Linked DNA regions of Homo sapiens: region 1 is reported to be linked to region 2. The links are microRNA targets in miRTarBase. Many come from high-throughput screens and were not tested one by one. Region 2 holds a microRNA gene; the other region holds the end of a gene's coding sequence. Distances are from middle to middle.
The links. The annotated mature microRNA hsa-miR-6734-5p reads UUGAGGGGAGAAUGAGGUGGAGA and lies in region 2 at 4,405-4,427, shown strand. An mRNA with a match to its seed (bases 2 to 7 or 8) in the 3' UTR can be bound and repressed. Matches are read on the target gene's strand: a 7mer-m8 pairs with bases 2 to 8, a 7mer-A1 pairs with bases 2 to 7 and ends in A, and an 8mer does both.

Region 1: the mRNA of NOS1AP is a reported target of hsa-miR-6734-5p. Seed matches in the 3' UTR shown: 7mer-m8 at 5,520-5,526 and 7mer-m8 at 5,053-5,059.

Annotation. Positions count from the first base shown.
Region 1 is chr1:162,366,242-162,373,358 of GRCh38, reverse strand. It overlaps NOS1AP (nitric oxide synthase 1 adaptor protein), which reads right to left. Exons shown (of 10, transcript NM_014697.3): 10 at 2,884-6,307. The coding sequence ends at 5,892. It overlaps SPATA46 (spermatogenesis associated 46), which reads left to right. Exons shown (of 3, transcript NM_182581.4): 3 at 1-156. Among named protein-coding and RNA genes, the nearest start is that of SPATA46, 7.1 kb to the left of the region's middle. RefSeq lists an enhancer at 5,657-6,156.
Region 2 is chr1:43,362,010-43,369,114 of GRCh38, reverse strand. MIR6734 (microRNA 6734) reads left to right here and starts at 4,400; the gene lies at 4,400-4,467. It overlaps CDC20 (cell division cycle 20), which reads right to left. Exons shown (of 11, transcript NM_001255.3): 10 at 6,803-6,920; 11 at 5,912-6,164. The coding sequence ends at 5,986. It overlaps ELOVL1 (ELOVL fatty acid elongase 1), which reads left to right and starts at 1,104. Exons shown (of 8, transcript NM_022821.4): 1 at 1,104-1,200; 2 at 3,492-3,551; 3 at 3,739-3,929; 4 at 4,107-4,187; 5 at 4,321-4,377; 6 at 4,468-4,573; 7 at 4,655-4,791; 8 at 4,978-5,714. The coding sequence starts at 3,506. The coding sequence ends at 5,199. LOC112268225 (a long non-coding RNA gene) reads right to left here and starts at 903. Exons shown (of 2, transcript XR_007066049.1): 1 at 1-903. RefSeq lists enhancers at 255-334, 928-1,662, 1,663-2,397 and silencers at 775-1,454, 2,715-2,804.

The DNA of each region.
Region 1 (7,117 bases), 120 Mb from region 2:
ATAGGCAGGTAAACATGGGAACCTATTGCTTCCTGTTACCAAGTAATGTGTCCAGTGGGCAGCCCTGACTCTGCCTCCATTTCTGAGTGAACCTCCTGGTCCATCTGACCCAGAAAGATGGATAAGCATCAGGGATGCAGCAGAGACATCTATCTTGACTGTAATGTGGTTTTTAAAAAGCACCAAATGCTTGCTGGTCATCCTTTCAGGCCTCATTTACCTCTTGCTTTATCACCCTGATGACTCAGTAGCCCCTCCACTGCAGTGGGCACTGCCTTGCAGGGACCCTGGCACAAACCCCCGCCCTGGTCTTTGCCTCCCTCAGGGCTTGGCCAGCAGGTGGTGTGGAGGGTCCTCCCTCACCTCCCAAAGGCTTTTCCTCCAGAGTCTTATCTGTGGCTTAGCAGAGCTGCTCTGCTTATCAGTGTGCTGCTAAAACCTCATTTGTGGTCGTTCCCCACAGAGTGGGAGGGAGGCTGGGCTCGATCCCCATCGCATCATGTGCTGTGAGACCACTGCGGCCCTGTGCCCTCGAGCCATGCTTCTCACCCCATTCTGTCCCCAACCCCACCCAGCCTGCATCCCAAAGTCCAATTGACTGCCAGGCTCCAGCTGGGCTGGGATCCAGGACAAGGTCACAACCTATCCAGTCCAGTGTGCAGAGGTCTCCAGGCAGCCCTGACATCACTCCCAGGACCCTGTGCCCTGAAAGGGCAGATGAGTGGCTCTGGGCAATCTTTTTAATCCTCACTCCGAGCTACTGTTGTCTCTGTCCTTTGCCAACCCCATGCTCCCTTCTCTATGGCATCTGTACAACAGGCATAGAACATATCACGAGAAGGAAAACAAGCAGGCCAGGGACTGAGCCCAGGTGCCATGGCACGTGCCCATCCCGCCTGCCAGGTGCTCGTGGTTAGTGTCTTCTCCCTAAAGACAGGGCGTTTTTCACATTCCACATTTAATGTTGTATCAATGTAACCCCAGGAATTTTCTCAGTACAGAGCTAAGTTTTAGCAGAGCAGGAAAGAGCACCCAGCACTGTACTGAGCAGCACAGGTGCAGGCAGAAGGAAGCTCCCTAAAAGGGAAATTGTTCTGTACCCTGGGTCACTGCCAGGCACTCTCTACTGGGTGCTTTTAAAATACAATCTCATTTACTTTCCATAGTAGCTTTGTGTGGTTTATACTATCCCCATTTTCGAGATGAGAATACAAAACTCAGTTCAGTTCACTTAGCCAGAAAAGAACAGAGAGCATGTGAACCCAGTTGATCTAACCTTTTCAACTTTCTCTCTAGCCTGGGCCTGACGAAGCCATCAGGCCTAACACATCCTCTGCCTGCAAAATGGCTAAAAGTTCCAGCCAAAGTGACCTGGCTTTTCTAAAGTCTGTTCTGTGTGATCCCACAGCTCCTCATTCCTCAAACACTCCCTCCTTTACCAGGCTCCTCTGCCCTTTCATTTGTACTCCTTGCAGGGAAGCCTACATTCCCATGAATCAGGACTTCTGTGCTGAGCTGTGTCATAGTGATACCATGATCCCCGCCGAGGTAGGTATGAGGAGGAGCCAGTTTTGTCCCCAGTATGAACATTTCTGGAATGGGCCTATTCAGACTTCTACCAACTACATATTTCAGGCATTTAGTCATGAAGTCCGTGAAATAGTATAATCTTTTTTTTTTTCTTTTCCTTGAGACAGGGTCTCGCTCTATCATCAAGGCTGGAGCGTGCAGTGGCATGATCTCGGCTCACTGCAACCTCCGCCTCCCAGGCTGAAGCCATCCTCCCACCTCAGCCTCCCAAGTAGCTTGGACCACAGCCACTCACCACCATGCGTGGCTAATTTTTATGTTTTTTTTTTTTTAGTAACGGTCTTTCCCCATGTTGCCCAGGTTGATTCAAACTCCTGAGCACAAGCGATCCACCTGCCTCGGCCTCCCAAAGTGCTGGGATTACTGGCATGAGCTGAATAATCTTGTTTATACAATTACACAGTTATATTGGCAAATATCTATGATGTAGTAATTTTTCAAGCACTCAGAACTTGATGCTGGCCAGGTGTGGTGGCTCATGCCTGCAATCCCAGCACTTTGGGAGGCCAAGGTGGGAGAATTGCTTGAGCTCAAGAGTTTGAAACCAGCCCGGACAACATGGCGAAACCCGTCTCTACAAAAAATAGAAAAATTAGCTGGGTGTGGTGGCACACACCTGTAGTCCTGCTACTCAGGAGGCTGAAGTGGGAGGATCATGGAGCCCAGGGAGGTCAGGGCTGCAGTGAGCCATGATCATGCACTCCAGCCTGGGCGACAGAGTGAGACCCTGCCTTAAAAACACCTGAAAAACAAAAAGCCCTGAAACCCAAAACCAAAAAAACCAACTGGCTGCTACTACCCACATATTCTAATGATATTTGGAGTTTGAAAAAACCTGGGATTGGCAGAGTCGGCAAAAATGGGTGTAGACGAGTTTCCCAATCTCAGGACTACTGACATTTGGGGCTGGATGATTCTTTGTTGTGGGGGGCTGTCCTGTGCATTGTAGGATATTGATCAGTATCCCTGGCTTCACTCACTACATGCCAGTAGCTTTGTGACAACCAAAAACATTTCTAGACATTGTCAGATGTCCCCTGGTGAGGAAAAATCAGGCCTAGTTAAGAACCACTGATACCTCTGATCCCGCAGGGCTGATCTATATAAAGTGCAAATGAAGCCACCATCTTCCTCTCCTCCTACAGGGAACTTGTGAATCTTTCCTCAATCCCATACCCTTGGGAACCATCTCACAGAGCTGATGCCACTTGGCTTGGGAAGTGGGGTGGAAGTGAGGGGGAGAGAAGGAGCAGGTGGAATAGAAGCAGCAAGAAAAGACAATGGAAAAGCTTCTAGAAATAAGAAAGGTTTATTTAGCAAAAGCCACTAGACTAGTGACAACATCCAGGGAGTAAGTGCACTTACATTAACAGAATCTTTTCCCAGAGAGTTGATCCAACAGAGTTAATGACACAACAGCTTTAGGAAGTAGAGTGCTAGTGGGTAGAGGGTTAGGAGGAAGCAGTCAAGCAAAGAGTAAATAAAAGGAATACAACGCCTAAACAAGATCAGTTGAGAGAAATGAGGCTAGGAAGAGGTTTTACAGAGAGAGCATTGATATAAGCAGGAATATAAGGAATATAATTTTTAATCTCAATATACAGTCCATCCAGTGCAGAGAAATTCTTTCCTGGCTCCATAACTGTGGGAGCCTCCTGTGCACGAGAGTCTGCTGGCACCTGGGGTAGGCTGGGGCAGGCACCAATAAGGTTAGCACCCCTGGTGTCCATTTGTCCTCCATATAGGGCAGAGTAGAAGAATGAAAAAGAGGAAGGCAGAGTTGAGTTAGCAGAGCAAGAAGCAAGGAGGGAGGACAGGGTGACATCGTCGGGAAATCAGGTCTGCAATGTTCCCTTTCCTGCCCAGTTGGCCCTGATGGAGGGTCGGTGGCTGGTGATCCTTCAAGGCTCCTAGATCTGTCCTTTGTCTCCCATCTCCACACACCAAGTATGCGCTGGTTTGGGTCCACTGGGGAGGATACCAATACACAAACTAGTCCTCCAGGGAGGGCCTGAACTGGGGAAAGGGTGGCGCCCAGGCAGGAAGAAACCACCATGGAACACCCCAAGGGCAGGAGTCTTGGATGGGTCCCAAAGTCAGCAACACAGATAACTAGTTTCTCCAATTCTTTAATTTCTCCATTTCCTTTCGTCTATCCAATCTCAAGTTTTTACAGGCCATTTAGAAGCGGCCTTCCTCACCCACTCCCTGGCCACATCCCACACAAGCCCTCTCCATCCACATTCCATACACCTAATCCACTGGCCTCTGGCTTTATCCTCAGCTCCGGCTTACGTCAGAAAACAGACTTTTCACTCCTCTGGACGTTCAAAATCTTAATAATCTAAGTGGTCTTGGACTCAGGGAACCCTGGGTTAGATTTCATAAGCTAGGTAGGCTCAGCCACACTGGATTCTGACAGCTGCTCATTTAGTTTCATGGATCTCACTTTCCTGGTTCTTCCTTCTCTGTGTAACTGTACCTATTTCCAATGGCAAATTAGATCAAAACAAAACAAACAGAACCATGCCTCTCCAACTAAATGCATGTTAGAAAACACAAATCTGTTGCTGATTCAAACACCCTGGAGATCCTCGTTCTTTTCCGTCTGGTTACAATCCTACATATATGTACACACTTTCCCTCACACATGTATATATAAACACATGTGTACACACACACACAAAACACACACACACACACCACCTGATCCTATTTCCACTGACACCCTGATGCACCAAGGAAGGCTAACATAAAACTGAATTTATTTCCTTTAATTTGGACTTTCTGGGCTACAAGAAAACCAACTGTGGCCATTAGAAGAGGACTGCACTTTTATTTATATATAATCTAAAGGAAAGCTAGGGTCGATGAACTCCATTTTGGGATAATCATATCCTTGCCGATTGACCCTCCAATAACACTGCAGTTTGCATCTGTACCTTGTTGTCTAGGATAAAGACTTAATTCCCCGAACATATGACTCTAGCAGGTCTCAGCAATCTCTTCAGGCATTTGAAAATCTGTTAACAGCCACTTATGGCCTTACAGGAGCAAAGGAGCTTTTCCTCATTGCCCCAGCCAGCCCGTTAAGGAGTAGTGATCCCTAGGCAAAGCCTAGATCATAAAAGATAAGACAATTGCACATGGCACTTTTTATATGTGTGCTCAAGGCACGCACGCAGAGAGATGGGCCAAGGGTGGCAATGGCTGTGGTCCCTGACCCAAGTGGCAGTGATTCAGAAGAGTGGACAAAAACAGTCTCACAGTCTCAGCTATCAGCTTGCATTCATTCTTTTTTTTCTTTCTCTTTTTTCTTTTTTTTTTTTTGCAGTAAAAACTGACCACCACTGCCCAGTGGAGGGGACAGGTTGAGAGGTAAGGCTGGGGGCTCTGGTCCTCTGGGGCTTTCAGAGAGGTAAAGTGCTGCAAAAGCTTCAGCTGGACAGGACACAGGGGAGGTGAGGGGCAATTCCCAGCTTCCATTTAGATGGGCTGGGCTACAGGCAGGAGGAAGGCAGGGCAGGACTTTCAAAACAGGAATCAGATCTAAGTGATTTGGAGCAGCAGACAAGCTGTCCTCCCCCTGGGCTCTCACACCAAGGGCCTGAACCATGTTAAAGCTTCAAGGCTCCCTTTGTAGCAACATTCAATGTCCGGCTGGAGAAAATGTTTGGATTCAGTTCCTCTAAAAGCTTATCCACTGTGACACATTCCAATTCCATGCTCACCCTACAAGGACTAGCCTGGCTTTTGCGGTCCAGAGCACTCAATCTCTACAATCTCAGCAAGGGCCTGGAGAAGGAATTCCTCTCATAAAGGTAGGGGGAGGGTTAGGCAACTCGCAGCATCGTGATATCCAGAAACAAAGTACCTGAGAAGGTACCGATGGCTTCCCTTCCTGGTCGGGACCATGGAGACGGGGAGAGTGAGGGGGTAGGGGGGCATCACGGACAAAGCGTGGGAGCCTGACGATGCAGCAGGTAGGGGCAGGTCCTCCAGCAGCCTGGCAGTCCTGGAGAGAGACCCTCTCCTGAAGCCATGGGCTCTGGAAGGCCTTACCTCCACCACCCTCTAGTCACAAGTAGGAGAGGAGCTGATTCACCTCTGGGAATCCGATTTCTTCCCCACTTTACCCTCCAAAGCAGAATCTCAATACTTTCCTGAAACCTCACACTCTCCCGGGCCCTGGCTGGCATTCTCCTCGGCAGTGCACATTCACTGGGCATCCCCTACCCGGGCAGCAGCCAGACACGGCCCCTCCAGCCACGCCGCCGCCTCCATCTCCTCGCCCTCGGCACCTACACGGCGATCTCATCATCCAGGCCGTCGCCCAGTTCCTGCCTCTGCAGGACATTCAGCAGGCGCGGCAGCTCCTCCTGGGACCACGAGTCGCGCTCCTCGCTCTCGTCCGTGTTGGACTCGTACTCCGAGGCGATGCCTGACTCTCGGAACTTGATGAGCTCCAGACCGCCCAGGAGCGCCTCGCCCTGCGCTGGGGGCGGGGTGTCCTCGGGCGGAAGAAAGCGAAAGCACTCCAGCTTCACCAAGCAGTCGCGCCTACCTAAGGGGCTGCCCGCAGGGTGGGCAAAGTCAGCCAAGCCCGCGCCCAGCGGCGGCGAATGCAGGTCCTCTGGCTTAGGGGTCGTGGGGTCACAGAGCACGGGCAGGGCTCCGGAGCGGAAGGTGATCTCCAGCAAGCTGTCCTGGGAGCCCACTGCAGGGGAGACAAGAGGTAGCAGAGGGGCAGCGTTAGGCAAGGTTGTTGATTTGGGATGCCCGCCTTCTGCCCGCCCGTGCCCTGCCAAAGCCCTTCCCAGACCAGCTTAGCAGCACCTCTCCGGGCTTTGGGTCTCTTAACACTTCACCCTTCCTCCCGCCCCCACATAGCTCCAGACACACCTCGCTGGAGGGGAGGAGCTTTGGGACGTGGTAAAGGCGGGGACATAAGAACCATATGATGGTTCTGGTAGCCACTGAAGGCTCTGAATAGGGTTAGTGGTAGGAAAAAGGTACCAATTGAGAGAACCATGTTAGAAGCCTGTGGTAACCTTTAGTACAATCATGTAAATAAGCATTAATTAGGATAGAGCAGAGTTTCAATGAACAATCTGGAAAATCCAGAGAGGCTTCCAGAGTGGTGAAGGGCACTGGTTTCCAATCCACACCTCTGGGCTACTTTAAAAATACAGGCTCCCAGACCAGCCCTAGACAGAACGATGTAGGATCTCAGTAGGAAAGACGCATTTTTAAAAGAGCTCATGGGATGGTTTGGGGGAACCACTGGTATAGTTGGAACAAAATTTTGCAATCAGATCTAGGTTTGAATCTTGGCTCTGCTCCTTGCTAGGCCTATAACCTTGAGCTAGTTACTTAACCTCCCTGAGTCTGTTACCTCATCTGTAAAATGGCATCCCATTTTTCTGCAGCAGAACTACAGGGATTAAATGAGCTCACAGGCAAAAAATTCTATCACAGTTTCTGGCACAATATGTGATCAATGGCTATTTGCTGGTCCACAGCCCAC
Region 2 (7,105 bases):
ATCCAATCATACAAGCAGTTGTTAGATCGTTGTGTGCTACTGTTCCAGGGGCCGCTGGAGGTAGAAATTCCATTTCACTAAAATCTAGTCTGTCCTTTGCCCCCACTAGTTGAGTCCAGTTAGTGAGTGTGGAGGTGGGGGCTGGAGGTGTAGAAGAGATAAATAAATATATAGAGAGCCAGTCCAGCTGTCTGGAGGACATTGTCCGCCTCCTCCAATCCCATCAGTTGCCACATCTTCTTTGGTCAGGCTGGCTTTCTCACCTGGTCTCCTTTCTGTGCCCTCCTCACACTGGCTGCCAAAGTGATTCAGCCAGATAGACTGCAAGCCCCGTGAGTGCACGGACGGTGGGTGGTCCATAAACGTCTGATGAACTAATGATACAAGCTTGAATATAGTCTCCTAAAAAAATCTTTAGTTTCTCCTCTGCTTCTAGAATAAAAATCAGATCGCCCCATTTGGCCTTCAAGACCTACTACATTCAGCCACAGTCAGCTTCATTTCCCTTTTTTCCTTTCACTACCTCGAAGGCCAGATTAGCCAGTGATTCACTATGCTTGCCCCGGGCCACTTGTATCCTCTCACCTCCGTTCCAGGCAGCCCTCGCAGCAGATCCTAACGCTTAGGGCTCCTCCAAGTGTACAGGCTCGTGAGGCTTCCCTCCCGCTAAGACCAGTGCGCCCTCAGCACACGCAGTGTGGTCTCGCCCGCCGCTCTGCGCTCGCCCTGCAGGAGAGGGAGCTCTTTGAAGGCAAGGCCGAACCTCCCCCGAGCCCTGAGCTGGGCCTGCCGCCACAGATGTGCAGTCCTGCCGGGGAGCAGTCACCCGGGGACAGGGCCGGGCCCCGGGCTGCACGTCGGGAAGAGACAGCGTGCTCCTGAGGTGGCCAGGCCGCTGCAACTGGCCAGGGCGGGCCCGGGCGGCGAGGGAAGGGGTGGGAAGCCCGGGCCGCGGCGCTTCCTGCTGGGACCCGGCGGCACGCCCCTGCCCCCGCCCCGGCCGAGCCTGCGCTGCCGGCCTCCGGCCCTGCCGGCCGCCCAATCAGCGGGCGCCCCCCGCGCGGCCCGCCCCTCCCCCTCTGGTGACAGAAAGTCGGCCCAGCAGATGAGGAAGTGGCAGGCAGGCAGGCTGGCCCCGGGGACTTCTCTCTGGCCCTGCTCCCTCCGAGCGCTCCGCCGTTGCCCGCCTGGCCCCTACGGGTGAGTCTGGACCTTCCACGGACTCTCCACGTGCCGGCGCCCCCTGCCTGGCCAGCCCGGCCCAGCCCGGCCCAGCCCTGCCCTGCCCTGCCCAGGCTGTGGGCGAGGGTGTTCCCGGGGCCAGTGGGTGGGAGGTCCCAGCTCCCTGGGGCCGGGCCTCGCCAGCACCCTCCCTCCCCCACACCCCCGTCTCTGGCCCCCATTTGCCTACACCCGGGCCTTCCTCCACCACCCCTGCATTTACCTCTCTCCCTCCTCCTCTCCCCTCCCTCCCCCCGCTACCCTAACTTTGCCAGGCACCTTTTCCCTTCCATCCATCTTAAAGGAAGGAAGGGACGGGCTGAGTTCCCCGACGAGAGACACACCCAGATTTTCCTGCAGCTTGGGGAGAGGTCCTCCCAGGAGCCTTGGTCCCTCCTGGCCTGCCGGGTGTGTGGGTTGATATTGGGGGCTGGTGGTTGAGAGATAACAGGCTGGCTGGCTCCCATGTGTCAGGGAGGAACCTGTGTTGGCGCCCTCGCCCCGGCCTGGGCCCTGCCGGCGATGGGCGGCCAGCAAGCCCGATGGTGGGGGAGCAAGTAAGGAGGGGATCCGAGCGTGGCCAGGCAGCGCGCACACGTGTGTGAGTGGCCCCGCGGGTGAGCCCGTGCGTGTGCCTGGGCGGTGGCCGAGCTGCGTGAGGGCCGGGAGCCATGCGTGTCAGCCCACGGAGGTGTTGCGTGGTGTGTCAGGCAGGAGACGTGTGTGCCAGCCCTCGGCGTGGCACCTTCGCTGTTGGGGGTGGAGAGCTAGGTGAGAGGTGGGTGTGGACCGCAGGCTTGGGGCCTGACCACGGTGGGCCTAAAGAAGCCGGGCCTCCTGGAGGTGAGGGGTGTGCGGGGCAGGGAGGTGTCAGAGGTGCGCCTCTTCACTTGGCATCTGCAGAGGTGCTTCTCTGGAAGCAGGGAGTCTGGGGCACCTGCTGCCCTGGGCCCTGCTCTGTTCCAAGAATGCCTTGTCCCTCAGGGACTGTCAGTACCATGCTCTCCTGGGTCTGGCCAGAGGCTTTTGTGTCCCTGGGAGCCTTCCCCCGACATTCCTTCAGGCCCTGAGGGGGAGGGGGCCTAGCCCAACGGGGCCCCTCCCTGAGGGAGGGGAAGATTCCTGCGACCTCCCCCACTCCCCAACCCCTTCACATGCCACTGGCTTCCCTGCCCTTCCCAGGAAGGGAAGAGTGATTGTACCCATTCTGAAGTAGGACAAACTGAGCAGTTATGGCCGGCTTAGGAGAGGATGCTGGGTGTGGATTTTCAGCAGTGCTTTGGGCCAGGGCTGGGGCTGGGGCTGGGGTCAGAGGAGGTTTCTGGCTCAGAATCTAGGACCTTAGCTCATCAGGCTGGTCCCACGTGGGTGGGTGGGTGGCGAGTCTGGGGCTTTACTTGGCTTTCCCAATCCTGGTGGGTCCTGCTCCCCCAGGCACTGACCTGTGGCCCGGACCCACCCTCCACCCCCTGCACAGTACAGCAGGGGCGGGCAGAGGGCGGGGCTGCTGCCAGATCTAGTCAGACAGGTGGAGCCGCCGGGGCAGGAGTCTCAAAGAGCCAGGCTCCAGGAGAGGAAGGGCTCTGCGAGAGGAGAGAGGAGAGCGCTGGAGAGGAGAGGCTGGAGGTGAGAGTCCCAGGAAAGGCAGAGGAGAATCGTAGGGACATAAGTGTCCCAGCACAGGCAAGGAGGAATCCGAGGATAAGGTTCTGGAGGGACAGAAGGGCCCAGAGAGGTGAGAGTCCTGGCAGGGACAGGAGGGACCCTGGGGAGAAGAGAGTTCAGGAAGGGTCCAGAGGGATGGGAAGAGGAGAGGGCAGGAGAGGAGAGATTGAAGGGGAGAATCCCTGGAGAGAAGAAAGACCCAGAGCTGGGGAGGTGAGGGACTCGGGTGAGGAAGGGAGACGGAGTTCAAGAGCTCCCTGTTGGTGAGAAGGTAAGATTCTCCAGTAAGAGACCTGGAATTGAGAGTTATCTTGTGGAGGAAGAGGGGAAGGGAGGCCAGGAAGTAAAACTGTGGAGAGGAGAGGAGAGTAAGGTGTGGAGAGGAAGGGTGGAACAGCTCTTCCCAGGCAAGCAGGATGTGTGGGGAGCAGATGCCTCAACCAAACTGCCTCCTCCCCCTAGTTCCCAGTAATTCCTTCCTTTCACTGTTCTGTCCTTTCTGCAATGAGGCATTGCAGGTGTCTTGTCTGGTTCTGTGTCTTATCTCTGTGGGATGGGGGTGTGCAGTGGGATCTGTCTGACATCCGCCCTCTGTACCTCCCCAGAGTCCTTAGCCAGGATGGAGGCTGTTGTGAACTTGTACCAAGAGGTGATGAAGCACGCAGGTAAGACGCTATCCACCAGCCCTTTCCTTCCTTCTTTCCCGGGATCCCTGGATCTACGGCTGTCTTCTAATGGAGAGTTCCTATGAAACCCTTGATCCTGTGACCTGACCTCATGTCTGTAGACCCTTCAAATGAAGACCCTTCGAACCCTGTGACTCTTCCTGATTCCTTTGACCCTTATTCATAGATCCCCGGATCCAGGGCTACCCTCTGATGGGGTCCCCCTTGCTAATGACCTCCATTCTCCTGACCTACGTGTACTTCGTTCTCTCACTTGGGCCTCGCATCATGGCTAATCGGAAGCCCTTCCAGCTCCGTGGCTTCATGATTGTCTACAACTTCTCACTGGTGGCACTCTCCCTCTACATTGTCTATGAGGTGGGCCCCTGGGATGCCGGGCTTTAATTTCTGTCAGCAGGATAAGGAGCAGGCCATAGAGCCAGAGCATGGCATTTCTCCTTTCCAGAGAGGTTCAGATCCATGTCCTCAGCTAGCGAAGGGGAGGGATGGCTGGGAAGGGAGAACTCTGGTGGTCTAATCCACATCCCTTCCCAGTTCCTGATGTCGGGCTGGCTGAGCACCTATACCTGGCGCTGTGACCCTGTGGACTATTCCAACAGCCCTGAGGCACTTAGGGTAAGTAGGGGCTGGGGCTAGGTCATAAGCAACCTGGTAGATATGACCAGTTTGGGGCCTGTGCTCAAGGCCCAGTTTAGGGAGGCTCTTAGAATAGTGTATGAGGTCCTAAGGCTATCCCAACTTCTTGCAGATGGTTCGGGTGGCCTGGCTCTTCCTCTTCTCCAAGTTCATTGAGCTGATGGACACAGTGAGTAGTTATATGAGATGTGAGAACTTGAGGGGAGAATGAGGTGGAGAAGCCCAGGTTCTGAATCCCCTTCCCTCACTCTTCTCTCAGGTGATCTTTATTCTCCGAAAGAAAGACGGGCAGGTGACCTTCCTACATGTCTTCCATCACTCTGTGCTTCCCTGGAGCTGGTGGTGGGGGGTAAAGATTGCCCCGGGTGAGTGGTGAAGGCCACTATGGGAAAGGGTGGGCACCAGAGGCTGGACTCTGCTGACCCTGTCTTATTGTCCACTCACAGGAGGAATGGGCTCTTTCCATGCCATGATAAACTCTTCCGTGCATGTCATAATGTACCTGTACTACGGATTATCTGCCTTTGGCCCTGTGGCACAACCCTACCTTTGGTGGAAAAAGCACATGACAGCCATTCAGCTGGTGAGGGGCTTGGCCTGACTTACCTATAACCATCCCCCCACATTCCTAGCCTGGATCCTGCCTTTATCCAGTCTGTCTCACCTTTGACCCCATCTCTCCCTACTCAACGTTTGTCTCTTTCTCTACCCCCTCTTCCCCTCTAGTCCTCTCACTATTCCCTCTGACCCTGGTCTTTCTCTATCCTAGATCCAGTTTGTCCTGGTCTCACTGCACATCTCCCAGTACTACTTTATGTCCAGCTGTAACTACCAGTACCCAGTCATTATTCACCTCATCTGGATGTATGGCACCATCTTCTTCATGCTGTTCTCCAACTTCTGGTATCACTCTTATACCAAGGGCAAGCGGCTGCCCCGTGCACTTCAGCAAAATGGAGCTCCAGGTATTGCCAAGGTCAAGGCCAACTGAGAAGCATGGCCTAGATAGGCGCCCACCTAAGTGCCTCAGGACTGCACCTTAGGGCAGTGTCCGTCAGTGCCCTCTCCACCTACACCTGTGACCAAGGCTTATGTGGTCAGGACTGAGCAGGGGACTGGCCCTCCCCTCCCCACAGCTGCTCTACAGGGACCACGGCTTTGGTTCCTCACCCACTTCCCCCGGGCAGCTCCAGGGATGTGGCCTCATTGCTGTCTGCCACTCCAGAGCTGGGGGCTAAAAGGGCTGTACAGTTATTTCCCCCTCCCTGCCTTAAAACTTGGGAGAGGAGCACTCAGGGCTGGCCCCACAAAGGGTCTCGTGGCCTTTTTCCTCACACAGAAGAGGTCAGCAATAATGTCACTGTGGACCCAGTCTCACTCCTCCACCCCACACACTGAAGCAGTAGCTTCTGGGCCAAAGGTCAGGGTGGGCGGGGGCCTGGGAATACAGCCTGTGGAGGCTGCTTACTCAACTTGTGTCTTAATTAAAAGTGACAGAGGAAACCACGGAGGCTGTGTGTATACGTATGTGAACAGAGGAGGTGGGGGAACACAACACGCTTAGCCCTGTCCACAAACAAGAGGGATGGATGGTCCAGGCTCCCACAGGACATATCTAGCTCTCTGATCCCAGTAGAGTAGAGCCCCTAGGAAGGCTGCTGGGACATAGGTCATGAAAGAAGAAAGGCATTAGCTGAAACAGATTTAAAAAAAAAACATGAAGGGAGACATGACTTTATTAGAAAAATAAAAAACAACTGAGGTGATGGGTTGGTCTTCAGCGGATGCCTTGGTGGATGAGGCTGCTTTTGGCTGCACTGGCCTTCTCCCGCTCCCGCCGCCGCGCAGGGTCCAACTCAAAACAGCGCCATAGCCTCAGGGTCTCATCTGCTGCTGCGGATGCCACTGTGGCCCCATCTGGGCTCATGGTCAGACTCAGGACCCGGGATGTGTGACCTGGAGCAAATGAGAACAGTACATACGAATGCTGATGCAGCCATAGCCATAAAGGAGGCACTGGGCCACCCACCTACCTTTTTGTTTTTTTTGAGACTTGCTCTGTCACCCAGGCTGGAGTGCAGTGGCGCAATCTTGGCTCACTGCAAGCTCCGCCTCCTGGGTTCATGCCATTTTCCTGCCTCAGCCTCCCGAGTAGCTGGGACTACAGGTGCTTGCCACCACGCCTGGCTAATTTTTTGTGTTTTTTAGTAGAGACAGGGCTTCACCATGTTAGCCAGGATTGTCTCTATCTCCTGACCTCATGATCTGCCCGCCTCAGCCTCCCAAAGTGCTGGGATTACAGGCGTGAGCCACCGTGCCTGGCCTCCTCCCTTTTTTTTCAATGGTGTTACTGAGATATAATTCACACACCATAAAATGCATCCTTTTAAAGTGTACAGTTTAGTGATTTTTAGTATATTCACAAAATTGTACAACTGTTAAAACTAATTCTAAGACATTTTCAACATTTCCCATTACCCTCTCTCAGCCCCTGGCAACCATTAATGTGTTTTTTCTCTGGATTTGCTTATTCTGGACATTTCAGTCATACATTATGTGGCCTTTTATGTCCGGCTTTTCACCTAGCCACTTACCTTTGAGTTCAGCCACCTTGGCCATGGTTGGGTACTTCCAAATAACTAGCTGGTTCTGTGCAAAGCCATGGCCTGAGATGAGCTCCTTGTAATGGGGAGACCAGAGGATGGAGCACACCTGTGGAGAGGAGCTGGTGTGGGCATGACATATAGCCAAGGCTACTTAAATCAGAACTGAGCCCATTCTAGTGTTAGGCACCCTGCCACATGCTCCAGACTCAGAGTTGAATGATCATAGTCCATACAAAAGTTCCTTGAGAGGCAAATTATAGACACTCGCTGATGTAACCATTTTTTACCTTT